2 linked regions of the Homo sapiens genome follow. The protein of the gene in region 1 interacts with the protein of each later gene in a biochemical or structural test. Each region holds a gene or a part of one and is shown on either strand. Other genes may lie near its edges.

Region 1 (17,219 bases):
CATTCTCCTGGCTCAGCCTCCCAAGTAGCTGGGACTACAGGCATCCACCACCATGCCCGGCTAATTTTTTGTATTTTTTAGTAGAGACAGGGTTTCACTGTGTTATCCAGGATGGTCTCGATCTCCTGACCTCGTGATCCACCCGTCTCGGCCTCCCAAAGTGCTGGGATTACAGGCGTGAGCCACCGCGCCCGGCCTCCTTGAGCCTTTTTATTGGGACCACATGACTAGCATTATTTTTTCAGTTAGCCATCATTTTAACTATCTTTGGATTTTTCTTTTTTTTTTTTTTTTATTGATCATTCTTGGGTGTTTCTCACAGAGGGGGATTTGGCAGGGTCATAGGACAATAGTGGAGGGAAGGTCAGCAGATAAACAAGTGAACAAAGGTCTCTGGTTTTCCTAGGCAGAGGACCCTGCGGCCTTCCGCAGTGTTTGTGTCCCTGGGTACTTGAGATTAGGGAGTGGTGATGACTCTTAACGAGCATGCTGCCTTCAAGCATCTGTTTAACAAAGCACATCTTGCACTGCCCTTAATCCATTTAACCCTGAGTGGACACAGCACATGTTTCAGAGAGCACGGTGTTGGGGGTAAGGTCACAGATCAACAGGATGCCAAGGCAGAAGAATTTTTCTTAGTACAGAACAAAATGAAAAGTCTCCCATGTCTACTTCTTTCTATACAGACATGGCAACCATCCGATTTCTCAATCTTTTCCCCACCTTTCCCCCCTTTCTATTCCACAAAACGGCCATTGTCATCCTGGCCCGTTCTCAATGAGCTGTTGGGTACACCTCCCAGATGGGGTGGTGGCCGGGCAGAGGGGCTCCTCACTTGCCAGTAGGGGCGGCCGGGCAGAGGCGCCCCTCACCTCCCGGACGGGGCGGCTGGCCGGGCGGGGGGCTGACCCCCCCCACCTCCCTCTCGGACAGGGCGGCTGGCCGGGCGGGGCGCTGACCCCCCCACCTCCCTCCCGGATGGGGCGGCTGGCCGGGCAGGGGGCTGAGCCCCCCACCTCCCTCCCGGACGGGGCGGCTGGCCGCGCAGACGGGCTCCTCACTTCCCAGTAGGGGCGGCCGGGCAGAGGCGCCCCTCACCTCCCGGACGGGGCGGCTGGCCGGGCCGGGGGCTGACCCCCCCACCTCCCTCCCGGACGGGGCGGCTGGCCTGGCGGGGGTTGACCCCCACCTCCCTCCCGGACGGGTGGCTGCCGGGCGGAGACGCTCCTCACTTCCCAACGGGGTGGCTGCGGGGCGGAGGGACTCCTCACTTCTCAGACGGGGCGGCTGCCGGGCAGAGGGGCCCCTCACTTCTCAGACGGGGCGGTTGCCAGGCAGAAGGTCTCCTCACTTCTCAGATGGGGCGGCCGGGCAGAGACGCTCCTCACCTCCCTGACGGGGTCGCGGCCGGGCAGAGGCGCTCCTCACATCCCAGACGGGGCGGTGGGGCAGAGGCGCTGCCCACATCTCAGACGATGGGCGGCCGGGCAGAGACGCTCCTCACTTCCTAGATGGGATGGCGGCCGGGCAGAGAGGCTCCTCACTTTCCAGACTGGGCAGCCAGGCAGAGGGGCTCCTCACATCCCAGACGATGGGCGGCCAGGCAGAGACGCTCCTCACTTCCCAGACGGGGTGGCGGCCCGGCAGAGGCTGCAATCTCAGCACTTTGGGAGGCCAAGGCAGGCGGCTGGGAGGTGGAGGTTGTAGCTAGCCGAGATCACGCCACTGCACTCCAGCCTGGGCACCATTGAGCACTGAGTGAACGAGACTCGGTCTGCAATCCCGGCACCTCGAGAGGCCGAGGCTGGCGGATCACTCGCGGTTAGGAGCTGGAGACCAGCCCGGCCAACACAGCGAAACCCCGTCTCCACCAAAAAAATACGAAAACCAGTCAGGCGTGGCGGCGCGCGCCCGCAATTGCAGGCACTCGGCAGGCTGAGGCAGGAGAATCAGGCAGGGAGGTTGCAGTGAGCCGAGATGGCAGCAGTACAGTCCAGCTTCTGCTCGGCATCAGAGGGAGACCGTGGAAAGAGAGGGAGAGGGAGACCGTGGGGAGAGGGAGAGGGAGAGGGAGACCGTGGGGAGAGGGAGAGGGAGAGGGAGAGGGAGAGGGAGAGAATCTTTGATTTTTCTAGAAGGAAAAAGTTCTAGGTTTTCCCTGTATTCCATCCTCCACCCCTTTCTGGAAATGCTGAAGACAGATACCATGTTCCAACATTAAGAACTGCCAGGTGCTACATATGGTCAGAAGCTTGTTTATTTTCATTTTTATTTATTTATTTATTTATTTATTTATTTATTTATTTATTTATTTATTTATTTGAGATGGAGTCTCGCTCTGTCACCCAGGCTGGAGAGCAGTGGCGCAATCTCGGCTCACTGCAAGCTCTGCCTCCCGGGTTCACGCCATTCTCCTGCCTCAGCCTCCCCAGCAGCTGGGACTACAGGCGTCCGCCACCACGCCCGGGTAATTTTTTGTATTTTTTTTTTTTTTAGTAGAGACAAGGTTTCACCATGTTAGCCAGGATGGTCTCGATCTCCTGACCTCGTGATCCGCCCACCTCGGCCTCCCAAAGTGCTGGAATTACAGGCATGAGCCACAGCACCTGGCCTATTTTTATTTTTTATTTTTAGAGATGAGGTCTTGCCATGTTGTCCAGGCTGGTCTTAAACTCCTGGTCTCAAGCAATCCTCCCACCTTGGCCTTCCAAGGTGCTTGGATTACAGTGTGACCCACTGCACACAGCCTAATTTTTTTTTTTAAAAACGTTAACTTTTTATTTCTGAGGTTATTTTCTCCCTCTAGTGGCTTACAGTTCTTATCAGGAAAACTTACTCTTCTGCATGACAGGTGGTACTGTAATCTGCTGGCTGGCCTCCTGTGGTTTGGGTCATAAGGACACATTTCTAAGGCTTCTGGCTCCATGAGGACTAAATGGTAGGAACCACAGGTTGTCAAATAAAAAGAATGACATTTAAGATCAGGTAGTCTTGGCATAGACCTATTTTATATTGTCAAAACAAAAGTAATATGAAAGATAGGAGTATCTCAAGTCTTACCTATGAAAGTTTCGAGTAACCAAAGCAATAGCCTAGCCAGTTAGACAGTAGGGGAAATTCACTGCTTCCATGCAAAAAATTAACGTTTGTATATATTTTTAGTCTTATAAGTTGTGTTAGATAGAGTGCTTGTCTCTCAAATAAAGTATTAAACAGGCAAAGGTCCTTGGAAAACTCAGTCTGGAGTAAGATGAATTTTTTTTTTTAAGACAGTTTCACTCTTGTTGGCCAGGCTGGAGTGCAATGGCGTGATCTCGGCTCACCACAACCTCTGCCTCCCGGGTTGAAGCTATTCTCCTACCTCAGCCTCCCGAGTAGCTGGGATTACAGGCATGTGCCAAGCCTGGCTAATTTTAAATTTTTATTAGAGACGGAGTTTCTCCATATTAGTCACGCTGGTCTTGAACTCCCGACCTCAGGTGATCTGCCTGCCTTGGCCTCCCAAAGTGTTGGGATTACAGGCATGAGCCACAGCGCCCAGCCAGTGAAATTTCATACTGTAAGCTTGAGTGCTGGAGAAAGAAAGGCTGGGACAGCTGGTTCCTTTACTATTCAGCATTGGTCCCTCCATCCCTTTTCCAACTTACCTAAATTAAGCTCTTTGCCAGGGAAAGATGCTAATTGTCAGATAGGTCAGCATAGCCACTGTTGGAGAAAAGGAATCTGAAGTATGAACAGTACAATGCTTAAGTTCAGGCTACTTTATAATTATAATAATTATTTTTTAGAGATGGGGCCTTGATGTTGCCGAGGCTGGAGTGCAGTGGCTCTTCACAGGTGTGATCATAGCACATGACAGCCTCAAACTTCTGGGCTCAAGCAATCCTTCTACCTCAGCCTCCTGAGTGGCTGGGACTACAGGTACATGCCAACATGCCAATCTTGGGCTACTTTATAGTTACCTGAGAATGTCAGTCTCAAATTTCTAAAGTTGTAGGTATTAACATATGAAGACTCCTAGAAGTGATTCAAGAATATACCATCTCAGATCTGCTACATTTTACTGCCAATATAAGGCCTACTTTCTTCCATGGCTAGCTGTCTTTAGCTATCCTAGCAGACGTTCATATTAAGGACTCTCAAGTTTCCAGGCAACAGCTACACCGAGATTTCTGCAAAGCATGGACAGTATAGTTTGATGGAGGAAAAATAAGATCAAGGCAGACTGGAATAAGCAGTAGGGATAGAAAAGTGCCTTAGAATAGTCCATTTCAATTCTGCTTTGCATCATGCCTAGGGCATAGATAAAGGGCACAGAGCTAGACTATTAAATGTCAGATTTTCCTGAGGGCATTTTGGTGACTAAATCCAGGGATTTAGACTCAGGTACCTTTCAGGAATACAAGTCAGGGTAGTTGTTTAAAGCTTTCACTGCATATTAATGATTATATTAGAGCCATGAACCCTTATTATAAAGTGAATTGGCTCTCTGGAAAATAAAGGCTGCAGCATAATTCAATGTTGTATACTGTTATCTTTAGATTTTTAAAGATAATGGAAAAAGATCTTCAATAACCCAAATGTAGTCTTCAGACAACCCCAAACCCTCATTTTGGCCAGCAGCCTAGAAAAGTATGAAGTTTGACCAGACTGATAAGCCTGGTCTTAATAAATGAAGACTGCTTTAGAATAGGTGGCGAGAATTGGTGACGCTGGGTTATTCACCTGATTATGGATAGCTGAATGGAGGCTAAGACCATTTCCTTTGATATATGTTAGACATGGCCAAAGCATTCCCAACCTTGATGCCACCTTGACACTTAAACCTAGCCTAAAGGATCTTGAGACCTACCTTATTCTTGAAGGAGTGTCTGTCAAGAATCTGAAGGCAAGTGTGACTTGAAGGCGAAGACGATCCTTTGGTAAGACAAAAATAAGACAAATAGCTGAAGTTTGAGGAGAGGGAAAGCACAGTACCTTTTAGTCTGGTGATGTGAATCAACTTTCCATTCAAGCTACTCAATTCCTCTTTTCCCACCATATGTTCTATGATTTCTCAGAGGTTCGGAAATTTTTGATGTCATAGTTAAGTCTTAGAGAACTGGCTCTCAATCCTGATTGTTCATGAGAATCACTGAGTAGTTTTAAAGTGACAGGTCCTTTGGTCCCACTCCAAAACTACTGGATCAGAATCTTCAAGAATGGGCTCTGGCTAATTGTGGCTTTAAAAGAGTTCCACAGGTCTGGCACAGTGGCTCACACCTATAATTCTAGCACTTTGGGAGGCTGAGGCAGACAGATTGCTTGAGGCCAGAATTTTAAGACCAGCCTGGGTAACATAGTAAGACCCCCATCTCTATAAAAAAATTTAAAAAATTATCCTGGTGTGGTGGCGTGTGCCTGTAGTCCAAGCTACATGGGAGGCTGAGGCAGGAGGATCACTTGAGCCCAGGAGTTCAAAGCTGCAGTGAGCTATCATGACACACAGTTGTACTCCATCCTGAGCATCAGAGCAAGACCCTGTCTCTATTAAAAAAAAAAAAAAAGAAAGACTTCTACAGGGGATTCTAGGTCTACCAGGCCATACTTTGGGAGTAATTAAATACCTTTAGAAGGGTTCCTCCAGTTTATGGGAGAAACTGCTGAATGATCTTTCCAATAAGTTTCTCTAAAAACTACCAGTTGGCATAGTTAGTTACATTAATTTTTTTGAGATGGAGTTTTGCTCTTGTTGCCCAAGCTGGGGTGCAATGGCATGATTTCGGCTCACTGCAACCTCTGCCTCCCGGGTTCAAGCGATTCTCCTGCCTCAGCCTCCCGAGTAGCTGGGATTACAGGCGTGCACCACCAAGCCTGGCTATTTTTTTGTATTTTTAGTAGAAATGGGGTTTCTCCATGTTAGCCAGCTGGTCTTGAACTCCTGACCTCAGGTAATCCGCCCACCTTGGCCTCCCAAAGTGCTGGGATTATAGGCGTGAGCCACCGTGCCTGGCAAAATTTTTTTTTTTTTTTGAGACGGAGTCTTGCCCTTGTCACCCAGCCTGGAGTGGCAATGGCTTGATCTCGGCTCACTGCAACCTCCATCTCCTGGGTTCAAGTGATTCTCCTGCCTCAGCCTCCTGAGTAGCTGGGATTACAGGTGCCCGACACCACGCCCGGCTAATTTTGTATTTTTAGTAGAGATGGGGTTTCTCCATTTTGGCCAGGCTGGTCTCAAACTCCTGACCTCAGGTGATCTGCCTGCCTTGGCCTCCCAAAGTGCTGGGATTACAGGTGTGAGCCACCACACTCAGCCCAGAAAATTTTTTTTGAGACAGGGTTTTGCTTTGTCTCTCAGGCTGGAGTGCAATGGTGCAATCACAGCTCACTGTAGCCTCAACCTTCTGGGCTCAAACAATCCTCCTGCCACAGCCTCCTGAATAGCTGGGACTACAGGTGTGTGCCACCACTCCCGGCTAATTTTTGTATTTTTTGTAGGGATGGAGATTCACCATGTTTCCCAGGTTGGTCTTGAACTCCTGGGCTCAAGCCATCTGCCTGCCTCAGCCTCCCAAAGTGCTGGGGTTATAGATGTGAGCCACTGCGTCTGGCCTAGTTCCATTTTTAAACCTAGAGTTTTTCTTTATGAGTGTCAAATAGAATCCACAGAAAGTGACATAACAAGCTCACTACACACTCAAAGATCAAAATTTTACTTTACTGTTGACATTCCTAATCCAATGTAGCAGGTCTTGAACCAAATGTTTACATATGCCATATTATTTCATCAGTTCCACAGTCGTATGAGGGATTACCACCATTTTATAGATTAGGAAACAACTCAATGGTGATAGATAGCTAAAGTTACAAAGCTAGTAAGTGTTTAGCATTATTAATATTAATTGAGGTAATACATGTAAGCTTGAGTGCTTATAGTACTTCAAATGCTTTACATGTACAGAGTAAGTAACTAGGCTATAACTTTTAAAATATGCACAATAGCTCCGTGAAATAGGAAGTATTATCAATATCATCTTTATTTTACAGACAGGATAAATAGGATGTGAACTCAAGATATCTGGTTCCAGAACCTGGGCTCTCGGTCACTAAATCATAAGGCTCAGCCCACTGTACTCAACTACACTTGAGCCAAATTCTGTCTGATAACAGCAGGTAGGCTTTTCGCATATACCAAGTACAGGGGAATAAGTGTTTCCAGGTTTCAACAATCTTTTGGTTCAGCTGGCTAGGCAGTATTATATGAAATGGGCAGTTAAGGACAGAACCTGATTTAGATGTAAAGTATGTGGTATAGACCAAGTGTTGTGGGAGTTCGGCAAAACCTAGACTTGGGACTATTGAGCTAGATCCTGAAGATTGACTAGGATTTGGGTAAGCAAGAAGGAAAGCATGCGTAAGTGAAGTCAGAGAGGCAGACATGAACATAGCACATTCACAGCAGGCTGAGAAGATGGTCCCCACCAAGTTGGGGAGTATCCATTAAGGAGCAGGAAACAAGATTAGCTTGGGATGCAGAGTCTTCAACCACACTTTCAGGATAAAGACAAGAAATTCAAGTGAGGTGGCTCACAAAAAATACAAAAATTAGCCAGACGTGGTGGCCTGCACCTGAAGTCCCAGCTACTCAGGAGGCTGAAGTGAGAGGATCTCTTGAGCCTGGGAGGTCAAGGTTGCAGTGAGCCATGATAGCACTACTGCACTCAAGCCTGGGCAACAGAGCGAGAGCTTGTCTCAGGAAAAAAAAAAAAAAAAAAAAAAGGAATGCAAGAAAGAGCCGCTAGAATTACACTAACCCCACGAAGACCGGTGCTATGCTGCTGCTAAGCTTCCTGGATGTTGGCCTCTTACTGTCTGCTCCATATTCTCCTTGGTAAAGGTAAAAGACCAGTAGAAATCCTACAAATTGCTTTAGTAAAACCTGGGTTTCTTTGATAACAGCAGGTAATTCAAATCTTCATGACCAATATCACATTACCTCGAGCCCATAGCTTTCTAGGGACCCAGTCTAGTAAATAAAATGGAAGGCAGATTCTATATTCCTAAAATGCAAATTCTACCTTAGAGATATTTGAAATTTCATGCGTTAAGTGTTGCCATCTTGCTGCTTCTTTTAAAAATACATTCTCTTTGGAGCATGGATGTTAAGTTTCTTTTTAAAATTAAAAAACATTTAGATTCAGGGGATACACATGCAGGTTTGTTACATGGGTATATTGTGTGATGCTGAGATTTGGGCTTCTAATGAACCCATCACCCATGCCCAAATAGTGAACACAGTACTCAAGTTTTTTTTTCTTTCTTGCCTTTATTTATTTATTTATTTATTTATTTATTTATTTAGAGACATAGTCTTGCTCTATCGACCAGGCTGGAGTGCGGTGTTGAACTCCTGGGCTCAAGCGACCATCCCACCTCAGCCTCCTGAGGAGCTGGGCCTACAGCCATGTACCACCACACCAGGCTAATTTATTTTATTTTATCTGTAGAGGGGTGGGGGAAGGTCTCACAATGTTGCCTAGGCTGGTCTTGAACTCCTGGCTTCAAGCAATCCTTCTACCTTTGCCTCCCAAAGTGCTGGGATTATAAGCATGAGCCACTTCACCTGGCCCCAACTTCTTAAGTAATAATGCTGATCAGCCTTGTCTCTCTTCTCCCACTCCCTAGAATTTATTGGGACAATGGGAACTCTGGATACGGAAAATGGGAATGATTAAAAACCTGAGAAAAGGAATTGGCAAGGTGGTGGAAATGAAGAGAACTCTTTTTGATTTATAATTTTTCCTAGGACCTTTTGCTTTGTGTCTTGAAAGAAAGTTGAAATAGAGTTGAAAATTTTCTTGAGTTACGGAGTTAAGGCCTCATTGGAATGGCAAGAATATTTTAATGCTAAAATTCATTCAAGTCTCTAAGATTTAAGGGTGATTACTAATTTCCTCTTTTTAATCTTGATTAATTTGGTTCTTCTTCATGGGGCCTATTTCCTAATTTAGTCTTAATAATTCAACAAATAAACCAGCATATTTATTGAGTGACTACTGTGTCCAAGAGGTATTGTTCTAGATCAGTGTTTTTCAGAATGGAATATTTGTACCAAAACCTCCTACAACAGTGCTTATATAAGTACAGACTTCTAGGCCCCACAACAGACTCGCCTACCTACCAATGCTAATCTCAGAGGACAGGGATTGATCTGTTTCTCAAGCATCCATAAATACCATGGTACTAGAGCACTGGTTCTCAAACTTGAGTGTGCATTGGAATCACCTGGAGGGTTTGTTAAAACACAGAGTGCCTGGACCCACCCCAGAATTTTGGATTCAGTGGTCTGGGGCGGGTCCTAAGAATTTGCATCTCTAACAAGTTTCCAGGTGATGCTGATGCTGCTGGATCACATTTTGAGAATTACTATGTACTTCTTGAGAACTACTTTGAGAATTATTATGTACTGTAGAAGTACAATGCACTGTAGTAGAGCATTGTGAGAAATATAAAAAAGTATTAGAGGCCGGGTGTGGTGGCTCATGCCTGTAATTCCAGTACTTTGGGAGGCTGTGGCGGGTAAATCACCTGAGGTCAGGAGTTCGAGAGCAGCCTGGCCAACACGGTGAAACCCCATGTCTACTAAAAATACAAAAATTAGCAAGGCGTGGTGGTGGGCACCTGTAACCACAGCTACTCCAGAGGCTGAGGCTGGAGAATTGCTTGAGCCCAGGAGGTGGAGGTTGTAGTGAGCAGAGATCATGCCATTGCACTCCAGCCTGGGCAACAAGAGTGGAACTCTGTTTCAAAAAAAAAAAAAAAAAGAAAAAAAAGTATTAGGTACAATTCCTGTCATTAAGGAGCTTATGCTGTAGTTGGGGGAGATACAACGTACACTATAAACATATAACAAGGAATATATGTATTTGACAATATAAAATATAATACAATATAATATTTGACATTGATGGGGTCTTTAGGAGAAGATGGGATTTGATCTGGGTACTAAAACATGATGAGGCCAAAGGTTCATAGGCATTCTTGGATATAAAAGAAGGAAAATATAGAGGTGTACAGGGGTGGGGTGGTAGATACTTGTTTATCTAGCTTACAGCTTTTAATTTTTATTTTTTATAGAGATGGGGTCTTGCTATGTTGCCCAGGCTGGTCTGGAACTCCTGAGCTCAATGGATCTTCCCACCTTTTCCTCCCAAAGTGCTGGGATTACAGGTGTGAGCCACCACGCCCAGCTTTGTCTAGGACACTTATGGGGGCATAAGACCAAAAAGGTTGGTGCAGTCTGTGAAGAGCCTTGAAAGCCTGTCCTTCTCCTCAGCTCCACCCACTTCATAGCCTTACCAAAAGTGCTGCACAGCCAGAAAGAGGAAGTCTCCCCTGCTGAGTGTGCAAGAGGAAGCACAAGAAGGCTCTGAGGGCCTGTGAGCCATAATGACTGATTTCACCCATGAGCCAATTGCAGAGGCAACAGAAGACCAGTGCACCAACCAGGCTGGGTCCCTCCGCCAGAGGGTGTCACCATCTAAGCTGAAAGTGTTTGGGGAGATCAGACATTGCTGTCTGGTGCTCCTCTCTCAGTGGCCATCATGTCTTTGACATCTGCTTACCAGCATAAATTAGCAGAGAAGCTCACTATCCTGAATGATCGCGGTCAGGGGGTTCTCATCCGTATGTATAACATCAAGAAGGTAAGCATGAACAATGGGACTAGTACTGATTATTCCAACAATAATAGGGCAGGGAACCCTGAGGCGGCAGGTGCAGCAGTTAGACTCCCACCTTTTTTTCCACTGCTTTTCCACTGACTATAATCTACATAATCACTCAGATTATACAGGCCAGCCAGTTCAGGAAGGCAGAAGTGGAGGCTTCTTTTCAAGGCTTCCCCTTTCTAGATATGATTCTTGCCCCAACGATGGCATCTGCTTTCCTCTGGGGATGGGGGTGAGGGTGGGGATGGGGAAACAACAGTGGTATTCCAAGTGACTTGGATAAAGGTCTGGGGTCCAACCTTCTGGGTTTTATTATTTATTGTTGATCCTCTACACTCTGAAGAGATCTGAAGCTGGGTCTCTGGCAAAAACTTTTCTGTGGAAGTGCTTCCCTAAAAGGAAAAAAAATAGATAATTAGGTATTTAGATTAAAAAGGGTAGGTGTCTTCTGAGCTGCTCCTGGGGTAGTTCATGCTGTGGTGGTTGTGTGTGTGTGTGTGTGTGTGTGTGTGTGTGTGTTTAGAATAGGAACTGAGGAATTGAAAGAAGCTAGTGACAAGAGGTGGGCTAGGGGCTGGGCAAACCATAGGAAGTAAAGAGATAAAGACAGGGGTGTTTATGGGGAGTTCCTGGCATAGAAAATAGGGGACTTTGGGGGAGGGAGCTTTTGTGTTTTTTGTAATAAAACAAATCACCAGGAACACGGTTTCTCTGTCACCATGAATCCTGTAAATGCCCTTTGGGATAAGATACTTACATAGTGAACAAAATTGTGACACTGAATCTTGTACAAAGTCTAACTCCTGAGCAGCTGCTTTTCTTGTTCCTTCCGGCTTCAGTTGAGGGGCGGGGAAACAGCTTCCTCTTTGTGCTGGGGCCAAGCAGGCATTAAACTCTACCCATCAAGACAAAATGCCTAGGTTGTTATTTCGCTCTTAGATACTTGGCTTAATGTCTTGGAATTTTTTCTTGACCTACTCTTATGCTTTTTATTTTTATATTTATTTATTTATTTATTTATTTATTTATTTTCGGAGTCTCGCTCTGTCGCCCAGGCTGGAGTGCAGTGGCACGATCTTGGCTCACTGCAACCTCCGCCTCCCGGGTTCAAGCGATTCTCCTGCCTCAGCCTCCCAAGTACCTGGGACTACAGTTGTGCACCACCATGCCCAGCTAATTTTTGTATTTTTAGTAGAGACGGGGTTTCACCATGTTGGCCAGGCTGGTCTCGAACTTCTGACCTTGTGATCTGCCTGCCTCGGCCTCCCGAAGTGCTGGGATTACAGGTGTGAGCCGCTGCGCCCAGCCTCTCATGCTTTTTAAATTAGTTCCCAGGTTGCCTTTTCCTAAGACAGATTATGAGAATGAATGTTGCAAGAAGAGGTATGTTTCTGAGGAGGAGGAGAAAGGGTTGAAATATATATGGTTTCTCTCTGCAGACTTGTTCAGACCCCAAATCTAAGCCACCTTTCTTACTGGAAAAGTCCATGGAACCATCTCTCAAGTATATCAACAAGAAATTTCCCAACATAGATGTCCGAAACAGCACGGTGAGAACTTGGTCCTTCTCTCCTTTCTCTGAATAATTCTCTGCTTGAATGGCTGAAATTCTCCTCTTTTGATGCCTCTCTTCAAACTTGGCAGGGGATGGAGTAGTCTTTTTTTATTAATAGTTTTCCAAGGCTCAACCACAGGGCTTCAGGTTGTTGTAGAGCTTTAAGTCTTGAGCATTTTGAGATAAGATGGGATTCTTCCAGCATAAGCTGGAGCGAATCATCACCCCTTTTCCATTGCAAGATTCATGGGAAAACATTGTTTTTGTACAAGACAGCTCTATCAACCCAGCAGGGTACATGTATTTTATTGTTTCTGTTTCCCACTCACTGTTTCCTTGCTGTTTGTCTTAGATTTCTGCATCTAATGGGATATCTCTACTTTTCCCTTATTAAATGTTAACCCTAGATTTTTCACCCATCTTTGTAGCATCTTTGAATTCTGTTTCTTTTGACTTTGATATAAATAGTATATCTGTTCATCTGAAAGGGTGCTTAAAATTTCCTCTCATTTAGCCCTCTGTATCTAGTCAGGATCACATGCAACCATTCTACCTAGATAGACAATCTCCTTTGTTTAAAGACCTTCAGAGCACTGAAGCGTTTCTAACTTCCTCTGTCAGTATATTTCAACTCTCTTTCTTTTTCTTTTCTTTTCTTTTTTTTTTTTTTTGAGATGGAGTCTTGCTCTGTCACCCAGGCTGGAGTGCAGTAGCACAATCTTGGCTCACTGCAACCTCTGCTTCCCAGGTTCAAGTGATTCTTCTGACTCAGCCTCTCGAGTAGCTGGCATTACAGGCGCCCGCCACCACGCCCAGCTAATTTTTGTATTTTTAATAGAGACGGGGTTTCACCAGGTTGGCCAGGCTGGTCTTGAACCCCTGACCTCAGGTGATCCGCCTGCCTCGGCCTCCCAAAGTGCTGGGATTACAGGTGTGAGCCACTGCGCCCGGCCTCAACCCTCTTTAAGAATGTTTTAGGTATAACCACTGTTCTTCTTGAGTTATTTGGATCAATTGTCTTATTTTGCACTTTTTTATTGTTTTGTTTTGTGTTTCTCTCAGCAACATTTAGGACCAGTACATCGTGAAAAAGCCGAGATAATTAGATTCCTCACCAACTACTACCAGTCATTTGTGGATGTCATGGAATTTCGGGTGAGCTCTCTTGAGCCGTTTCCAATGTAGGCAAGGTCTTTCAGAGGCTATTCTTTCTTTAGATGTTCATGTATTTGCTTAAAACAAGTTCTTGAAAAAATGAGAGAGATGTACTAATATGGAAGGATATCTAAGTTGTATTGTTAAATGAAAGCAAATTTCAAAATAGTATATGATACATCACATTTCTATTTTAAAAGAGTATGTATGTATATGTATTTAGTAAATATCTAGGAAAGATCTGGACTATTTTACATTAAACTGTTAAAAATAACTACCTTTGGGGACTGATTATGACTGGCTTCAATTTAGTAGGCTATGCATGTTTTTTCTATTTTAAAAATTATGGTAAAATACACATAACATAAAATTTACTGTCTTAACCATTTTTAAGTATACAGTTCAGTGGTACTAAGTATATTAATAATGCAACCATCTTTTCACCTTGTAAACCTGAAACTCTCTACCCTTTATGCAATAATTCCCCATTTCCCTTTCTTTCCAGCCCCTTGCCATCACAATTCTACTTTGTTTTTGTGATTTTGACTATTCTAAGTACCTTATATAAGTAGAATCATAAAGCATTTGTCTTTTTGTGGCTGGCTTATTTCATCAGCCTAATGTCCTTAAGGTTCATCCCTGTTGTAGCATATTGTAGAATTTCCTTTTTAAGCTAAATAATATTCCATTGTATGATTATACTACATTTTGCTTATCCGATCGTATGTTGATGGACACTTAGGTTGCTTCCAAGTTTTAGCTATTGTAAATGATGCTGCTATGAACGTGGGTGTACAAATATATCTTCAAAACCCTACTTTCAATTCTTTTGATTATAAACATGAAAGTGGAAATGCTGGATCATATGATAATTCTATTATTAACTTTTTTTTTTTTGAGTTAGGGTCTCACTCTGTTGCCCAGGCTGGAGTGTAGTGGTGCAATCACAGCTCACTGCTGCCTCGACCTCCTAGGCTCAGGTGATCCTCCCACCTCAGCCTCTTGAATAGCTGGGGCTAAAGGCACATGCCACCACACCTGGCTAAGTTTTTATATTTTTTGTAGAGATGGGGTATCCCCATGTTGGCCAGGGTGGTCTCAAACTCCTGGGCTCAAGCTATCCACCCACCTCGGCCTCCCAAAGGCTGGACTGTGCCGGCCTATTTTTAACTTTTTGAGGAACTGCTATACTGTTTTCCACAGTGGCTGTACTCTTTTACATTCTCACCAACGGTGCATAAGGGCTATAATTCCTCCACATCCTCGCCAACAATTGTTATTTCGTTTTTTTGACAGTAGCCATCCCAGTGGGTGTGAGGTATTATCTCATCTAAGTTTTTATTTGAATTTTTGCTAATGATTAGTGATAATGAGCATTTTTCATAGGCTTATTGGCCATTTATATATCTTCTTTGAAGAAATGTCTGTTTCATTCTTTGACCATTTTTGAATTGGATTTTTTGTGTGTGTTGAGACTTAGGAGTTCTCTATACAGGTTGAGTATTCCTTATGGAAAATTCTTGAGACCAGAGTGTTTTGAATTTCATATGTTTGCAGATTTCAGAATATTTGCATTAGGCAGTTGAGCATCCCTAATATGAAAGTCTGAAATTTGAAATGTTTCAATGAGCATTTCCTTTGAGTGTCTTGTTGGTGCTCAACAGGTTTCAGATTTTGGAGCATTTTGGATTTTCGGGTTAGGGAAGCTCAACCTGTATAAACTATATATCTTTGCATTATTTGAGCTTTAAAAATTTCAAGTATTTTTCCACAATATTTTATACAAACCTACTGTAAAATTTCTAGTATAGTACAATGAATATTGTTATACTCTTCTCCTGGATCTCCTAATTGTTAGTATTTTGCCACATTTTCTTATCCTTCTCTATTTTTTAATGAACTATTTGAGTTAGCCTCATACATCATGACATTTCCTTTCCCAAATACTTAAGCATACATTTGCTAAGAGCAAGAATATTTTCTTACCCAACCCTAATATAATTATCATACTCAGGAAATCATACACAGGAAATATAACATACACAGGAAATATATCATACACAGGAAATATAACATTATGGCTGGGTGCTGTGGCTCACGCCTGTAATCCCAACACTTTGGGAGGCTGACGGGGATGAATCGCTTGAGCCCAGGAGTTTGAGACCAGCCTGGGCAACATGGTGAAACCCCATCTACACAAAAAAAAAAAAAAAAAAAAAAAAATTAGCTGGGCATGGTAGTGAGTGCCTGTAGTCCCAGCTGCTTAGGAGGCTGAGGCAGGAGGATCACTTGAACCTGGGAAGTCAAGGCTGTAGTTAGCCATGATTATGCCACTGGCCACTGTACTCCAGCCTGGGTGACACAGTGAGACTTTGTCTCAAAAAAAAAAAAAAAGAAACAAAACCCCACCCAAACTAATATACAGCCCATATTCACATTTCTCCAGTTGTCTCAAGGATAATACATTGGATTTAGTTATGTCTCCTTCATCTTTAATCTAGAATGATTTCCAGCCTTTGTCTTGTATGACACTGACATTTTTGAAGAGTCTGGGCTAGTTATTTTTGAGAAATCCTTCAATTTGAAATTGTCTTATTGTTGATAGTTTTTGGGAGCAATACTACATGGATGATATTTTATTTGAATTTTAAATAATGAGCATGTATTATTTTTATAAACATAAAAAATAAAAATTAATATGATGTTTTTGAAAGAAAAATTGATAAGGTATTATTAAAATTTTAAAAATTAATGTCGTAATTTTACATTTAGAAATTTGTCATAAGGAAACAGAATTGTTTCATGGGGAAATAAAAAAAGGAAACAAATGCAAAGACATATGTATAAGAATATACTCCATTGCATTATTTATGATAGTTACAATGTGATAATTGATATATCCAATAAATAAAGGTTTGGTTAAAAGTTCAGAGTATGTGCCCACAAATGAATATTCTGTAGCTGTTAAAGTATACACACATATATATATATACACACACATATATATTTTTTCTTTTCTTTTTTTTTTTTTTGAGGCGGAGTCTTACTGTGTTGCCCAGGCTGGAATACAGTGGCGTGATCTCGGCTCACTGCTGCCTCCGCCTTTGGGTTAAAGCGAGTCTCCTGCCTCAGCCTCCTGAGTAGCTGGGATTACAGGCACGTGCCACCACGCCTCGTTAATTTTTGTATTTTTAGTAGAGATGGGGGATCTCACCATGTTGGCCAAGCTGGCCTCGAACTCCTGACCTCAAATGATCCACCTGCCTCGGCCTCCCAAAGTGCTGGGATTACAGGCATGAGTCACTGCACCCAGCCAATAATATATTTTTTATATTAATTGGTATAGAAAATGTTCATCATATGTTGTTTAATGTAAAAGCAAATTGCAGTAAGACAGTTTAAGACAGATGTAAGATGTAAGATGTCCCTAAAATGTATATTTACATAGGTAAATATGCATATAAAGAAGATTGGAATTTCTGATCGGTGGGATTATAGTTTAAAAAAGCTAGTTAAAATTAAACTTGTCGGTATTTTCTAGTTTTTTCTACAATAAACATGTATTATTTATGTATTCAAGAAATAATGCAAATTTTAGCCCTCTGAGCAACCCAAGCTTGTGGTGGTGTTATAGTATTTTTTCAGATGATACAAGAATAATGTGTTCTGTGCCTACCCTAGGAAGCAAATCCAGGATATTCAGTAGATCACATAGTGAAGAGAGAAGTGAGGACAAGAAGGACTGTAATGTATGAACGAGGGTCAGGTCAGAGAGTATTCATTGTGGAATTGAGAGTAGT
Region 2 (15,214 bases), on another chromosome or scaffold:
TACCCTAGACACACACACACACACACACACACACACACACACACACACACACACAAAATGAGAACCACCATCCTGAATCCTTGGTATCTGGGGTCAGGCTTCAGGGGGACACCTGAGCTGGGTTCTCATGGGGCTGGGTTGCCCCCTTCCTTCCCTGGCTCTGCTTTCTTCTTCTTCCTACTGCCATCCCTTTTCCAGCTTTCCAGCGGCCACCATGACCCCAGGGGGAGGAGAAGGCTTGGCTGTGGGGCTCAGGGTGGGGCACAGAGTCATGGTGAGGATAGGATGCTTCATGATGGTGACTGTGGTCTTTTTCCAGGAGACGACCTCATGCGCTGTGTGGATCTCTACAACCAGGCCCAGTCCAAATGGTTTGAAGAGATGGTGACCACCACATTGGTAAGCGGGCAGGGATGTGTGGACATGGCAGTACAGAGGCTGACACAGAGCAGCCCCTGGTGGTTGTTGGTGGGCGCGGGGATGATGGGGTGGAGTGACCCTGGAGATGGTCATCAAATCTACTTCAGTGTTGGGGTCGAAACCTCAATGTGAGCCAGCTTATGTGGATTCAGATCTCTGCTCCAGCGCTTCCTAGCTGTGTGGATGTGGGCAGGGTTGGGTTGGATATGGCTACATCCTTCTTGGGCTGTCCCCTGAGAGGTCAGGGTCAACTGAGGACTCTCCTCAACTAAGTGGACAAGGGCCTCTTTAGGAAAAATAGCCAAGCTATAGGAAGAGAGGACCGCCCCACACATGCACACACACGAGTTGCAGGTCCTTGGTAGGAGATCCTTGCAAAGTGGATGGATGGGTGAGGATGGAGCTAGGCAGTGGGGTGGGGGAGGCCTCTCACCAAGGGTGAACAACAGGCGGCAGGGCCGATGATGCTCTTGAGTATTTCTTGTAAAGGGGCAGCATCTCCTTATCAGTCAGCACCTGCCTGAGTGGACAGTGAAGTGTGGCTGGTACTTGGGCCAGATGGGACAGGAGGCATCATGCCAGGTGCTCATCGGATCAGCCCACTGCCTAAAGCCACCCCTGTCCATCCAGCACAGGACTAACCAGCTGCCTTCCCCAGGTGTCAGCCCACCAGAGCAGATTAGAGGCCTCCACCAGGGACAGTGACCTAGTTTTCCTCCTGGTTAATCTCCTAATTAAGCCCCCTGCTTTACCCCCCTTTCTGATTAATCACCTGGGCAGTGACCTAGTTGTATGCAGAGTAACAGCCGGATCCCCTAGATTCCAAAGACACAAAACCATCTAGAAACCAGAGGACAAACCCTTTCCACGCTCCCCTTTGACAAAAGCTGTGCCACGTGCAGCCCAGTCTGCCTCCCTGGCCCGGTCTCTATTGCGGCCACAGCACTAGGCATAGGCAGAGGAAGGGAGGCTGCTCAGCAGAGGCCCAGGGACAAGGTCCCAGGAATGTGTGGCATGGAGCTCCCACATGTGCCCCCTTGTTATACCCCATCAGGGCACCAGGGCCAGGGCTGCATGGGTGCATTGCCATGAGTAACAGCCTGATGGACTCTGGTTTAAATCCTGTTCCTCCCATAATTCCGTGTCGCTTTGGGTGAGCTGTGTTGTTGCCTCTCTAGGTGTTAGTTCCCCAGTTCCCTTGCTTGGAGAATGGGGATAATAACAGAAACGATCTCTTAAAATTGTAACGAGGACAGTTAAGGAACGCACGTAAAGCCCTCAGCACTGTGCGTGGCGGAGCAGGATTTCAGGAAGTAAAACAGCCGCTGCTGCTGTCATCAGCTTCACCTTCACCTTAGATATGGGGCACGCTCTTCATCAGACCCCAGAGAGTCAGATGGGACAGAATGTCCACAGCCAGTGACTTGCGTTTTGTGGTCTTGGTGGGGGGACCCCCAAGTGGAGGGGACGTGCTCAGAGTTCTCTGGCCTTTGCTTTCTCGGCAGGAGCTAGAGCGGCTGGAGGTGGAGAGGGTAGAGATGATCCGGCAGCACCTGTGCCAGTACACGCAGCTGCGGCATGAAACAGACATGTTCAACCAAAGCGTGAGTTTCCAGCCCAGCGGGGCTCCCGGGCGACACGGGGCCTGGGGAGAGCCGCCTGGCGCTAGGCCGTGGCAGGTTAAGTGGCTGCTGCAAGTGAATCTGCCCTAAAGGCGGGCAGTGGGCAGGTGCTCTGGCCTGGGGGTGGCCTCGTGGACTGGGCCTCTCAGGATTGTCCTGGACGTCTGTGTGATTCCGACCCTGGCACATGAAGTGGACACACACGTGAGCTGTTACCCTGAGGAGAAAGAAGCTCGTAACAGTTACAGTAGCTGAAGACATTATTAAATTTCTTAAAAAACAAAACCAAAAAAAACAACTTCTAGAAATATTCACAATACCTAAAGCTCAAGTTTTATTTGTCCTGTTCACTGGTGGTAAATGTGGGGTGGAAGGGATAGAGACAGGTTTTAAGGCCCTCCTGGCCTCTCATCCAGGCCTGGGGTCTGCAGGGTGAGAAGCAGGGTCGGGATGCATACTGGGTTCCCCGTTCACAGCCCTCTTCATGTGCTGTCCCTCAGATGGGCCTCCCCCTGGGGCCCCGGAGCCCTCTAGAGAGGCTGCTCTCAGAGACACTAAGGTGAGGACAGCATGTCTCAGAGGAGACCTCCCTGGCTTGGCCGCCGTCTCTAACAGTGTCGCATTTTCTCTGTCTCTTGCAGACAGTCGAGCCCGTGGATCAGCTGCTTCGAAAAGTGGACCCGGCCAAAGACAGGGAGCTGTGGGTCAGAGAGCACAAGACGGGCAACATCCGCCCTGTGGACATGGAGATCTAGATGGGCCTGTGCAGCTTCGGGGGGTCCTGCTGGGGAGGGGGGCTGGGCTCCCACCATGGGGCCCATGCCGAGTGGATGCCCCCCACCCTCTCTCCTGGGCCACTGAGGAGAGGGGAGAGAGCTGGTGATTCCAGAAGGGTGACCCGGACAGCCTAGCTGGGGGCTCCCCCATATTCCCAGGCCCAGAAGACAGACCCACAGCCCTGCCCTTGTCTCTGAGGCTGAAGACCCCCTGACTCCCATGCTGTGCTTGCCGCTCTGAAACAAACAGAGGCTGGAACTTTGTGGTCCTTGCCGAGTTTTGTAGGGGTCACTGTCACATGCTTGTGCCCTGGAAGCCCCAAGGCTCTTCCTCCAGCTGGCTCCCTTGTCTCCAGGGCTTTGGAGGATCAGGGTAGGGAGGGCTCTGTCTCTAAGCCAGGTGTCAGGATCAGAATCATGGGTAGAAGGTGCCATTCAGCTCACAGCCGCACCCAGAATCCTTTGCAGCCCTCCTTCTTTATTTTTTTCCCATTGCATTCTGGGAGTCCACATCTGGCTTTCTCAGCCACTGTTCATCACCAGGGGTTTTAGGAGGAAGGCTTGGCTCCTGTCTTCCCAGACCCACCATGCCTGGAGAGGTCAGGATGGAACTACCTCATTCGGCAAATTAGCCCCAAATTGAGCGCTGAATCGTGTCCCATGAGATCAGGCGCCATCTGTAAAGTCTCCTCTGGAAATGCCAATCCATCCTTCCCCCAGCTGCTTCCTCGGGGAGGCCCCTGCCCCCACCCTGCCAGCCCTTCCCAGTCTCATTAGAGGAAGCTTTCCAAAGTTCTCAGTTATCAAGACCTCATCCAGCTCGTCCAAAGGCTTCAGGGATGGAAACAAACCAGCTCGTCTCAGAGGCCAGCAAGCTGGGGCCTGTCCGCCACGGTGCCCTGTGCACCTTTGGGCTGCCCTGGCCCCCACTCTCCCGGGCCGCCCACCACAGGCTCTTAATGGGGCCGGGTCAGTCCTACATGTGAGATGGGTTAGGGCAAGTCTTTGCCATCCCCCAGATGGCTCTGTCTTCTTGTGTATGGCAGGGCTGGGACTGCTGTCCCTTGTACAGTTTTCTGTCACTGGTGGGCACTGGACAGGCATAGCAGACTCTCTTGTGGCCACACTAGGTTGTCGCCTTTCAGGCAGTGTCCCGCCACCTTTGCTTCCCGCTCCTTCTGGACATTCCAGAGCCCTGCACCAAACCCTTACTTGGTGTCTGCACCTCCTTTCCCTCTCTCCATCTTCCAATCCCTGGAAAAGTCTGGTCTGAGTGTGACTTGGGAAGCTTTCAGTGCTGCTGTTTGGCCCAGCTCATTACTTTCTCCCTTTCTCTACCACAGCAAACACATTCTCCACCATGTCAGTCTAAAGAGTCTAAAGGGGCCGGGAGAAGCATGAGCGAGGGGCAGATTCTAGTCGGGAGCCCATGCCCTGGAAATCCATCTTTCTTCATCTTTCCCATTGACCACTTTGGGTTTGACCTGCACATCTGCAGTGAGGGCAGAATTCAACAAGCACAACTCACTGGTCTTTCAGTCAACGTGCTAGAAACCGATGACTTATTAATCTCTAATTTTTTGGCGCCTCTTTCATTGAATGAGAATTGCTTTCGTATAGTTCACATTAGAAAAATGCCTAATATACTAAAGTAAACCAAACGTTGTCACTTTTCTCTTGTTCTTGAAACATTGCAACCAAAAAGGTCAGCACAAAGGCCTTCACCTACGTGAAGACCTCCTGGTAGGATCTGTCCATGGGATGGAGAACCACTCTGTCCAGATCTGGGGTTGGGTCATGACACCAGCTACCAATTTTAGAATATTATTTCTTGGTTTCTTTATGAAAAATGGGTGCTAGTGGTAATTGCTTTGTGGCTTAGTAAACTACTCTGTGGATGATTTCCAAACATTCAAAGCCAATAGCCTTGTTATTAACAAGATATTTTGAGTACAATATGGCTCATTGACTTTTCCATTACATCTGAGGATTCCAGAGTCCTCTGTTCATCCCTGGGATAGAGTGAGCCCTCTTGCGTCTTCCAGGGTAGCTCAGGTTGGCCCAGTTTGGGCCAGTCCATTTTTGGAGGTCACTCTTTCCCCCCTCATCCCCTCACCTCCTTCTCTTTACCCCCTTCACGTACTTCCTTTCTTTCTTCCCTCTGTTATTCATTCATCAAGCAGGTTAAAGCCATTGTGCTAAGATCTAATCTGAGGACACTATAATGGCCCTGTCGTCAGGGAAGCCCGTGATCGCTCGTTTTCAGGGGTCTTACCGGTCAGCAACCTTGGCATTGATACATAGGCACTCTACAGAATTTAAGTTTTCAGAGGTAAGTCTGTTGTTCTGATTAATCTGCATTCATTCAGCGAATGCTCAAGACAAGCCAGGCATGCTGAGAAGCGGCGCTCTAGTTGTATGTAAGATGGGCATTCCTCTGCTCTCCTCTATTCTCCATGTCGACTGAGAAGAGTATAATAAGAACATTGTACCCTCTCCACACTTAACCCTCTGGGATTCTTTATTATAATATAAACCACCGTCGTGAGGCATTTACCTGTTGGATGGAAGGTAGACAGCAACAAGATTTTAATCACCTGGTCACCAGACCCTCACGGCCCATATCCAATTCGAATTTCAGAAATTTCTCTGTTTGCTTTAAATAACTCTTTACAAATAAGGGTCGGGCACGGTGGCTCACGCCTGTAATCCCAGCTCTTTGGGAGGCCGAGGTGGGCAGATCACGAGGTCAGGAGATCGAGACCATCCTGGCTAACATGGTGAAACCCCGTCTCTGCTAAAAATACAAAAAATTAGCCAGATGTGGTGGTGCACACCTGTAGTCCCAACTATTCGGCAGGCTGAGGCAGTAGAATCGCTTGAACCTGGGAGGCGGAGATTGCAGTGAACCAAGATCGGGCCACTGCACTCCAGCTTGGGTGACAGAGCAAGACTCCATCTCAAAAAAATTATAAATAACTCTTTGCAAATAGGAAAGTGAAGCTCAAGGGTAACCAGTGAGGCTATGAAATTGCCAGTGAATTAAGACCAGGGCTAGAGTCAACAGTCCAGAACCCCTATCCGTATGAACAGGGGCCCGTTTCTGGTTGAAATCAAGGTTAGGATGCAACTGAGAAAATAAAAGACTGCACTTTGGAGAGGCAAGCACGCTATCCGGGTTGTTGTTTTGTTTTATGTCTTGGTGCTTAGGTGAGGACTTAGCTGGGTTTATTCAAAGTGGGCGGGTCTGGGCTATTCTTGAGAATGTCCCTTCCATTTCTGAGAACAAGTCAGCCCCTTCTACCTGCCTCCACCCAGGAGACTGATGCACAAGATCTGTTTGTGAAAGCCTGATTTAAAAAGAAAAAAAAAATTCCTTAAGCCAAATGGTGTTCCAAGTTGGTTGCTGTGACAACCTCCAGGAAGAGCCACTTGTTACCCTCTATTCTTTCTAGTGCTTTCAGTCAGTGGCAACACATAGGCCCCTTGGACCGTGGGGATGGCGGCCCTGAGATTCTGTCAGTGGGACCACCCTGGGCCTCCTTTCTACCTCCACTCAGCACCCTGTTGGCCAAGGAGAATTTCTGCGGTGGGAGGCAGTGCTCTGCTAGTCAGGATTGATAAACAGCTGGGCACACCGAAACAGTGTACCAACGAATTCACCAACCAGGGGTTTCTTTCCCTACCCTTTGTGAAAACCAATCAATTACTAGATGAGTGGATGGATGCAGAAAAATCTGGGCTGAGCCAAAGTCCCTTTTGGAAATACAAGCCATAACATTCGAAGGACATCAGCGACCTTGGCTTGTTTAGGTGATTTTACTTCCAGCTGCAGGTAGTCTTGACAAGGAGTGTTTAAACAGAAGGCTCAAGATGCATTCCTTGTGTAGGTCGGAGAGAGCACTTCTAATGTTAAGTGGGGTACAGATCAGCTGCCCCCCCACGTAGCCTGGACATCGTCTTATCCCCATAATCCTTGCCATCCCTACAAGGCCCATCGCCACCACCTTTTCCCAGGTTTATTGAGGTATGATTGACATCCAGTAAAATTCACCCTTTGGAAATATACAGCTCTGTGAATTTTGACAAATTTAGTGTCTTGTGACCATCACCAAGATCAACCTGTTTTTAACCCTCCAAAAAATTCCCTTCTCCTGCCCTCTTTCCCTGGCAACCCTGATTGATTATCTGATCCTATAATTTTGCCTTTTCTAGAATGTCATATAAATGGAGTCACACTGATGTCGCCTTTTGAGTCTGGCATCTTTCCCTCAGCTTAATGCTTTTGAGTCATTCATGATGTGTGCGTGTGGTTTGTTCCTTCTCCTTGCCGGGAAGTATTTCATTGCATGGGCGTACTACTCTGCTTCTTTATTTTTACACTGAGCCTTTCGCCCTGGAAGTTCTTGGCCCAGGGTCTTCAACTTGTTTGCACGACCACTTCCAGCTTGCTGCTTCCTTCAGTTCCCCAGGCTCCTCCTCCAAATGCCAGCTGTGCCCACAAGCTGTTCTTAGGGCTCACACTCGCCTTTTGGCGCGTGGTGGGTTTTTGGTAGTGCAGAAAGAATCCAGGGATGGGAGGGGAAGGGACGGATGGGTGCTCAATTGCTGCTCACGTCTGCTGCAACCTGAAGCTTGCATCTCAGCCAGCAGATCTGCTCCCTTCTGGGACCCAGGCTTCAGTGTCACACGGTCCTTGGCTATGTATTGGGCGTTGGAGGCTTTGAAAGGCGAGCAGAAGCAGCATGGACAAGAAGGCTGGGGCTGGCCCTGGGGCTCATCATGATGCTTTCCTGGATCTGTTGCTTCATCTGCAAGCTGAGGGTGTTTGTTCTAGATGAGTGTCTCAGGCCACCGGCAACTGCATGTACCTCCTCCCTTTCTCATTTCCAATGATGTACCCTGTACACGTGTTCATGCTGTGTCTGGCTCTCATCTGCACAATCGTGCATAGAATTGCCTCAAGTCCTGGTGAGAGAGATGCCGTGGTACTTTTCCATTTAGATTCAAATGGAGCTAAAATTAAGAGTTTTATGAGCTGTTAAGAATGAGGTAGTTTCTCCTAGGACCCCCCAAAGACAGTGCAAGTAATGACCGTTTGGATCTCATTCGTCGATCTTTGATAGTATGTTCTGGAGTCTACTCCCCAGGAGCCAGGACAGGCGTGAAGATGGAGTCCTTGTCGCAGCTGGAGCCTTGCCTAGCTGGTGATCACACAGCCTGGCCTGTACCTGCACCCCACTGGATGGTGGTACATGGTGGCAGGGACAGGACCACACCCAGTTAAGGCCAGACCAGGCTGAGTGTGACCCCTGAGGTAAACACTCCACTAAGCTGTGTCTTGTTCATGCCCCCTGCTCAGTGAAAGGTGAGTCCCGAGACCAGTTGGGTACCTCTCTATGCGAACCAGAGACATTTCTGGATCCAGGCCAGGTGAAGATTAGGGCCAGGAAGCCTGAGCCCCCGGGGCCTCAAGGTAGGGAGCCGAAGAGGCTGCCAGGACTCTGCTGGGTTGAAATTTGCCGGGGAGGACTCTTGTCTCCCCCTCAGGAGTATTTTTGTTGAGGCTTTCCTGGAGGTGAAGAAGCAATTCCCATTGCAGCAGGTTAGAGCGAGAATCAGACAGAGGGCAAAAACCAATTCGCTTCTCCCCACGTTCTAAATGCTGGGGCATGGCTGTCAGGAGGGCTTCCTGGGAGGTGTCTCTGGGGGTGGGGTGAGGTTGGGGCGATGGCCTTTGGAGATTGCGTGTGGTGTTCAGGACTGTTCCTTGGTGTTTGAGGGAAACTTTAGTGGGATTGCAGTGGAATGTAAGGTCAGGGCACGTGGGTGCTCTCTCGGGGTGGGGTGACTGGGAGACCTAGAGGGAAAGCCTGCTATGCAGGGGGAGAGCACAGGACTGGCCCTGCTCTGCGGCCTCCTTTGTCCCATAACCTGAAGTTAAGTCACATCCCCTGTCGGGACCTCCGTGCACTCATCTGTCAAGTGGGGGCGCTTCCCTTCCAGCATCACCTGCAGCAGACGGGCTCTCGGGAGTCGTGGGTTCCAGGCAGCTGTGTGGACCCAGGGACAGACATTCAAAGGGACGCCAGCCATCCTTAGTGACAGGGGCCCCAACTTAGCATCCCTTCCCTTCCGTTAGGAAGGAGATGACCGGAAGCAACCCCTTCACAGACACGAGCACATCGGCAAACCCTATGAAAGTGGAATTTTCTAACAAAATAAACTTGCTTGTTTGATCTGTTTTCTGTAACTTTTGCTAAATACTTTATACATTTTTCATGTTAAAGAGCCGTGTCTCCCGCCAGCACTCCTCACCCCGGTATGAATGTGTTTCCTCCACATTGTATATCCTTCCACCCTCTGGCTGCCTAGATCAGTAAATAAAATTGATGTAATATAATTTATAAGTAACACTGTTGAAACCCTGATCCCAGTGGAGGCTGTAACCCACCTGCCCCCGCACCACCCCCCTGACCCCTGTTACCGCATTTGTGTGTATTAATGCTGAAGAATTAAATGTTTAAAGAGTTTAAATTTTGAAGGCGTTTGCTATATACAGTTGTCCTGCATTATTATAAAGAGTTTTCAGGAAGTTAAATCCCATCTCGTTTTTTTTTTCTTCTGCTCTGTGTGTATCCTCGAGATGCCTAGATTCATCCCATGTAAAATAAACTGTCCAGAGACACTAGGTCCCCCTAGGCGACCCTCTTTCCTGGAGGGCTGCCACATTCTTCATGTGACCTGTCTTGGCATCCCTCCTAGGCTCTCGAGATTGGTGGTGATTTCACCTCCGATGACTTAGCGGGAGACAAAGGGCATCTGGACACTGGCACCCAAATGGATGCTATGCTCCTGGCCTCAGGCCCCTCCCCCTGGTGACTTCCTGTCTCTGTGGGTTCCAGCCCTTTGCCTCCCTCTCATCTCTGGAGCTCCTGGCTGTTTCTTTTCTCATCCATCCATCCATCCGTTCATTTATATATATATATATAGAGAGAGAGAGAGAGAGAGTCTCGCTCTGTCGCCCAGGCTGGAGTGCAGTGGCACAGTCTCAGCTCACTGCAACGTCTACCTCCCAGGTTCAAGCGATTCTCCTGTGTCAGCCTCCCGAGTAGCTGGGACTACAGGCACGCCCCACCTCAACTGGCTAATTTTTGTATTTTTAGTAGAGACAGGGTTTTGCCACGTTGGCCAGGCTGGTCTCGAACTTCTGACCTTAGGTGATCCGTCCTCTTCGGCCTCCCAAAGTGTTGGGATTACAGGCATGAGTCACTACGCCCGGTCCCATCCATCTATTCATTCAATAATTACTGAGCATCTGGTATATGCCAGACACTGCTCTAGGTTCTGGGAACACATCAGTGTGAGAAACAGAGCCCTGCTCTCAGGTAGCTTACATTCTAGCAGACAAAAACAGTAGACCTACTATGTTCTGTGATGTGGGTGTGGATGGTGTTAAGTGTTGTGGAAAAGAAAACCAGGACAGGGTACGTTGCAGGATTCAATAGGGTCATTTGAGTGGCCTCATTGAGAAGGTGGTATTTGATCAAAGACAAGGAGACCTGGGAGGGACCCTGGAAGGTCACCAGAGGAGAGTGTTCCAAGCGGAAGAGATGCTCGCGTGTCTGAGGCCAGCCTGGCTGGAGTGGAGGGAGTGAGGAGGGAAGAGAAGATGAGGACGCTGGGCAACCCTCTTTCCTGGAGGGCTGTCACATTCTTTGAACGACCCGTCTCAGCGTTTCCCCCAGGTTCTTGGGATTGGTGGTGATTTTACCTCTGATGACTTAGCAGAGAGACAAAAGGCATCCGCCCCCTTTCATCCGTTCTTGGAGGTGCCAGAGGCCACTTGCGAGAAATGGTGGGATGAGGGCCAGTGCTGCCTGCTGCAGGCTTTTGGCTTGGACTGGGAGAAGTGGGCAGCCATAGTGCATGACCTGATTTCATGGCCATGGGGCTCACTGCGGGGCTGTAAGGGGACAAGAGCAGAAGCAGGAAGAGCTGTTAGGAGGCAGCGGTGATGCTGCCTGCACAAGGCAGGTGCAAGGGAGGCGGGAAGAACGGTCTGGTTCTGGATGTACCTTGAAGGTAGAGTCAAGATGATTTCTTGATAGATTGGAGTGGGTTGTGACCGAAAGAGAAACACTGAGAATGATGCCAAGGACCTCAATCCAAGTCATCAAAAGGATGGATTGTCATTTTCTGCAATGGGGACAGCTGTGGGAGGAGGGTCCTTCCCCATTCTCTGTCTCCCCCGCCACCTTCTCCATACCCCCTTTTCCCTCTCAATGCGGACTTCTCTGCAGGTGCTGGCTCCAGGCCAGAGGGCAGGAGGGTCGTCTTGGCCTTCAGCTCATAGCAGGCAAGGTCGAGCAATGGGGAAGGGGTGGCGTCTGGGTCCCAGCTAATGGCCAAGATGGAGCTCCTGCTTGAGGGGACAGGGCCAGCTTCTGGGAAGCATCTTTCAGTCCAGCGAGGAGAGCGAGACCAAAACTGGGATCCTCTGCCTGGAGATGAAGCCTTCTCCTCTAGAGCAGTCTTTGGGTTTTGGGAGAGTTTATGGCCCCAGCTCAGACTTAACAAATCGACTCACAATACATCATCTCCAACAACTTGTTTGGCTAAGGAGCATAAGCTCTCCCTCTGATAGAAGATGTTTATGCAGGTTTTCAAACAAACCTCCAGGTCATGACCCCTCACTCTCAGCATCAACACAGCTGCCTGCGGTCCCCTGGGGCCCCTCCTGGGCACAGCAACCTGGAGAATGTGGACTGTACCAGGCTGCTTCCGACCTGGGTCCAGCTCCTTCCTCCTTGTGCCTGGAGAGGACAGCAAAGACTGGAGGGCTCTGGCTGCCTTCTGCCTCGCCCAGGGCCTCTTTCATTGACATGGTAACCCCACCTCCTCACCTACTTGTCCTCTAGGCTCAGGCCTCCTGTGACGTAGACAAAGGAAGCCTAAATGGACAGGCTGGCAGACCTGGACTTTCCTTCCTTCTGGCATTGCCATTTAGCAACCATGTGACCCCAGGCTGGTGACATGCCTTTAGGAGGCCCCACTTCTCACTTGTAACACTGGCTTCGCCTCATCTGCTGCAGGCTTGATGTGGACAGGGGTGCGATCCAGGAGGCACTTCCAGTCGCCCCCTACTAGTGGCTCAGAGCAAGGGGCCGAGGCCTCTGACCTCACTCTCCCTCCATCCCCAGGGCTGCAAGGAAGCTCTGGAATGAATGCGATTCCAGGGTGTGGCTTGGGCTCCCGTTTGTTTTCAAGGCTAGTGACTGTCCTGTTTCTAACTGCTCTTGAGAATAAATGCACGCTACAGGATGGTGAAAGCCTAGGAGAGGAAGGACTCCTATTCAGAAGTAATATTCTCACTGGGCGCAGTGGCTCATGCCTGTAATCCCAGCACTTGGGGAGGCCAAAGCAGGCAGATCATGAGGTCAGGGGATCGAGACCGGCCTGACCAACAAGGTGAAATCCCATCTCTGCTAAAAACACAAAAATTAGCTGGGCATGGTGGTGAGCGCCTGTAATCCCAGCTACTTGGGAGGCTGAGGCAGGAAAATCGCTTGAACCTGGGAGGCAGAGGTTGCAGTGAGCCGAGATCGTGCCATTGCACTCCAGCCTGGGCGCAGAATGAGGCTCTGTCTTAAAAAAAAAAAAACAAAAAAAACAAACAAACAAAAAAAAAAAAACTCACAAAGTGATGGAAAAAAATTAGAAAGTTCACACACACACCCCAATATGCAGGTTTCCTGAGAAATCTCTGAAACTGTACTGGGCAGAGCGGCTGGGAGGGATGAGTCTGCCCCTTGGTGCCTGAACCTCTCGGTCCTTCCAGAGTGACATGAGGTGGGCCTGGCAGGTGGCTTTCTCCCAGCAGCAGGGACCTACCTTCTGCTGCCACTAGCCTGTTAGTAAGTAGGCTAAAATCCCCACTTTACACTTTGAGATGCAAGGCGGGCGGATCACCTGAGGTCAGGAGTTTACGAGACCAGCCTGACCAATATGGTGAAACCTCGACTCTACTAAAAATACCAAAAAAAAATTAGCTGGGCGTGGTGGCAGACACCTGTAGTCCCAGCTTCTCAGGGGACTGAGACAGGAGAATTGCTTGAAACCAGGAGGCGGAGGTTGCAGTGAGCCAAGATCGTGCCCAGCCTAAGTGACAGAGGGAGACTCCGTCTAAAAAAAAACCAGTTTACCTGCCTGGAGACCGTGGGGTTTATTCTTCATCATTCTCACCCCAGGGCAAAAAGAGACAACTCTCCATCCACGGTGGCAAGGCTGGGGTTCTGAGTGTGTCCCCTCGAGCACTGCGCTCCGCTAAGGAAAGTGCACGCCCACCCTCCCTTCCTTCTGGGTGACAAGAATCCAGGTGTGCAGCGTCCTCACTAGGTTGCTTCCTCGTGCTTGATACTCCCCGCTGAGCTGCACAGACGCGAAGCCTGCCTTTGCACAGCTCCGTCTCTGACCACTCAGTTATTTATCCATTCACTCAGCAAACACGTTTTCTTGCCTGCTCACTCCAAGTCCACTGCAGACGGACACCCTGCAGCCTGCCATGGACCCACAGATAGATTGTGTTTGGCCCACACCATGTTTTGTTTTGTTTTTGTTTTTGTTTTTGTTTTGTTTTTTTGAGATGGAGTCTCACACTTGTCACCCAGGCTGGAGTGCAATGGTGCAATCTCGGCTCACTGCAACCTCTGCCTCCCGGGTTCAAGCGATTCTCCAGCCTCAGCCTCCCAAGTAGCTGGGATTACAGTCACCTGCCACCATGCCCGGCTAATTTTTTGTATTTTTAGTAGAGACAGGGTTTCACCATGTTGGCCAGGCTGGTCTCGAACTCCTAACCTTGTAATCTCCCCACTCAGTCTCCCAAAGTGCTGGGATTACAGACGTGAGCCACCATTAAAATTTTGAATTAATTGCCAAAGTTGAAAAGTGTGGAAATTGCAAGAAAAATTCTGATTTTTGGATTTCTCTTGAATAATTTAAAAAAACCCAAAAATCTCACCATCCCATGTGACCACGTTCTCTGGCAGCCCCTTCCCGAGGTGACACAGGCCTGGCTGCCCCCTGCTGGTCCCTTCAGGCAGTTCACCTTCACTCCCTGTGACTGATGGACAATAACAAAACGAGTGTTTAGCATTAGCCATGTGCCAGTTTCTAAGTGTGTCAGACATATTGACTCACATCAGCCTCACAATGACAGTGTGGTAGATGCTATGATGCCCATTTATTCAAGAAAGACTTGCTGGGGGCCCAAGCCTATCAGGTTCTGGCAATGGAAATGCATCCGGGAACAACACAGACAAAATCCCATCCTTCACGGAGCTTTCATTCCGGTGAGGGGACATGCAGCGTGCCGATGATGGTGGGGGTTGTGCTATTATAGATAGAGGGTCAGTATAGGCCTGGCTGAGCAGGTGACATTTAAGCAGAGACATGACTGCAGTGAAGGTTTAGAAGAGTGTCCCAGGTGGAAAGAGGTGAAGAAACAAGCCTGGGGCCACACAGCTAGTTAAGTAGCCAAGCTGGGACTTGAACCCATGCTGGCCCCAGAGTCTGTGCTCCTAACCATTGCATTCTAGGGCTTGATATGAGATGCCAGCCCCGCCCCGAGATGCTCAGAGTTAGTGAGGAAGAGAAACAGGGAACATGGCTGCTGTTAGAGGGCTGGGGCTGGGGGTGCCGGAGGCCCCAGCTCTGAGGGTTCCAACCTCCTGTCCTGTTCTAGTATCGTCCCGGGAGGCCGAGATGAATTGCCTGCCTGCCCTGGGCTCTTTATTTTAATCTCACTAGGGTTCTGGGAGCACCCCCCCCCACCGCTCCCGCCCTCCACAAAGCTCCTGGGCCCCTCCTCCCTTCAAGGATTGCGAAGAACTGGTCGCAAATCCTCCTAAGCCACCAGCATCTCGGTCTTCAGCTCACACCAGCCTTGAGCCCAGCCTGCGGCCAGGGGACCACGCACGTCCCACCCACCCAGCGACTCCCCAGCCGCTGCCCACTCTTCCTCACTCATGGGGAACAGCAAAAGTGGGGCCCTGTCCAAGGAGATCCTGGAGGAGCTGCAGCTGAACACCAAGTTCTCGGAGGAGGAGCTGTGCTCCTGGTACCAGTCCTTCCTGAAGGACTGTCCCACCGGCCGCATCACCCAGCAGCAGTTCCAGAGCATCTACGCCAAGTTCTTCCCCGACACCGACCCCAAGGCCTACGCCCAGCATGTGTTCCGCAGCTTCGATTCCAACCTCGACGGCACCCTGGACTTCAAGGAGTACGTCATCGCCCTGCACATGACCACCGCGGGCAAGACCAACCAGAAGCTGGAGTGGGCCTTCTCCCTCTACGACGTGGACGGTAACGGGACCATCAGCAAGAATGAAGTGCTGG

Evidence for each region.
Region 2: the proteins of NCKAP1L (region 1) and GAS7 form a complex in vitro, tested with the Homo sapiens proteins (one study listed by BioGRID).

Annotation. Positions count from the first base shown.
Region 1 is NC_000012.12:54,487,207-54,504,425, forward strand, and holds the start of NCKAP1L (nck-associated protein 1-like), read left to right. Parts: upstream 1-10,545; 5' UTR 10,546-10,583; coding exon 10,584-10,685; intron 10,686-11,571; exon of another isoform or gene 11,572-11,629; intron 11,630-12,148; coding exon 12,149-12,259; intron 12,260-13,326; coding exon 13,327-13,419; intron 13,420-17,219. UniProt on the Homo sapiens protein: Essential hematopoietic-specific regulator of the actin cytoskeleton. Controls lymphocyte development, activation, proliferation and homeostasis, erythrocyte membrane stability, as well as phagocytosis and migration by neutrophils and macrophages.
Region 2 is NC_000017.11:9,904,811-9,920,024, reverse strand, and holds the end of GAS7 (growth arrest-specific protein 7), read left to right. Parts: intron 1-319; coding exon 320-399; intron 400-1,925; coding exon 1,926-2,024; intron 2,025-2,683; coding exon 2,684-2,797; 3' UTR 2,798-9,419; downstream 9,420-15,214. Other genes in the region: RCVRN (recoverin), read left to right, coding at 14,845-15,214. UniProt on the Homo sapiens protein: May play a role in promoting maturation and morphological differentiation of cerebellar neurons.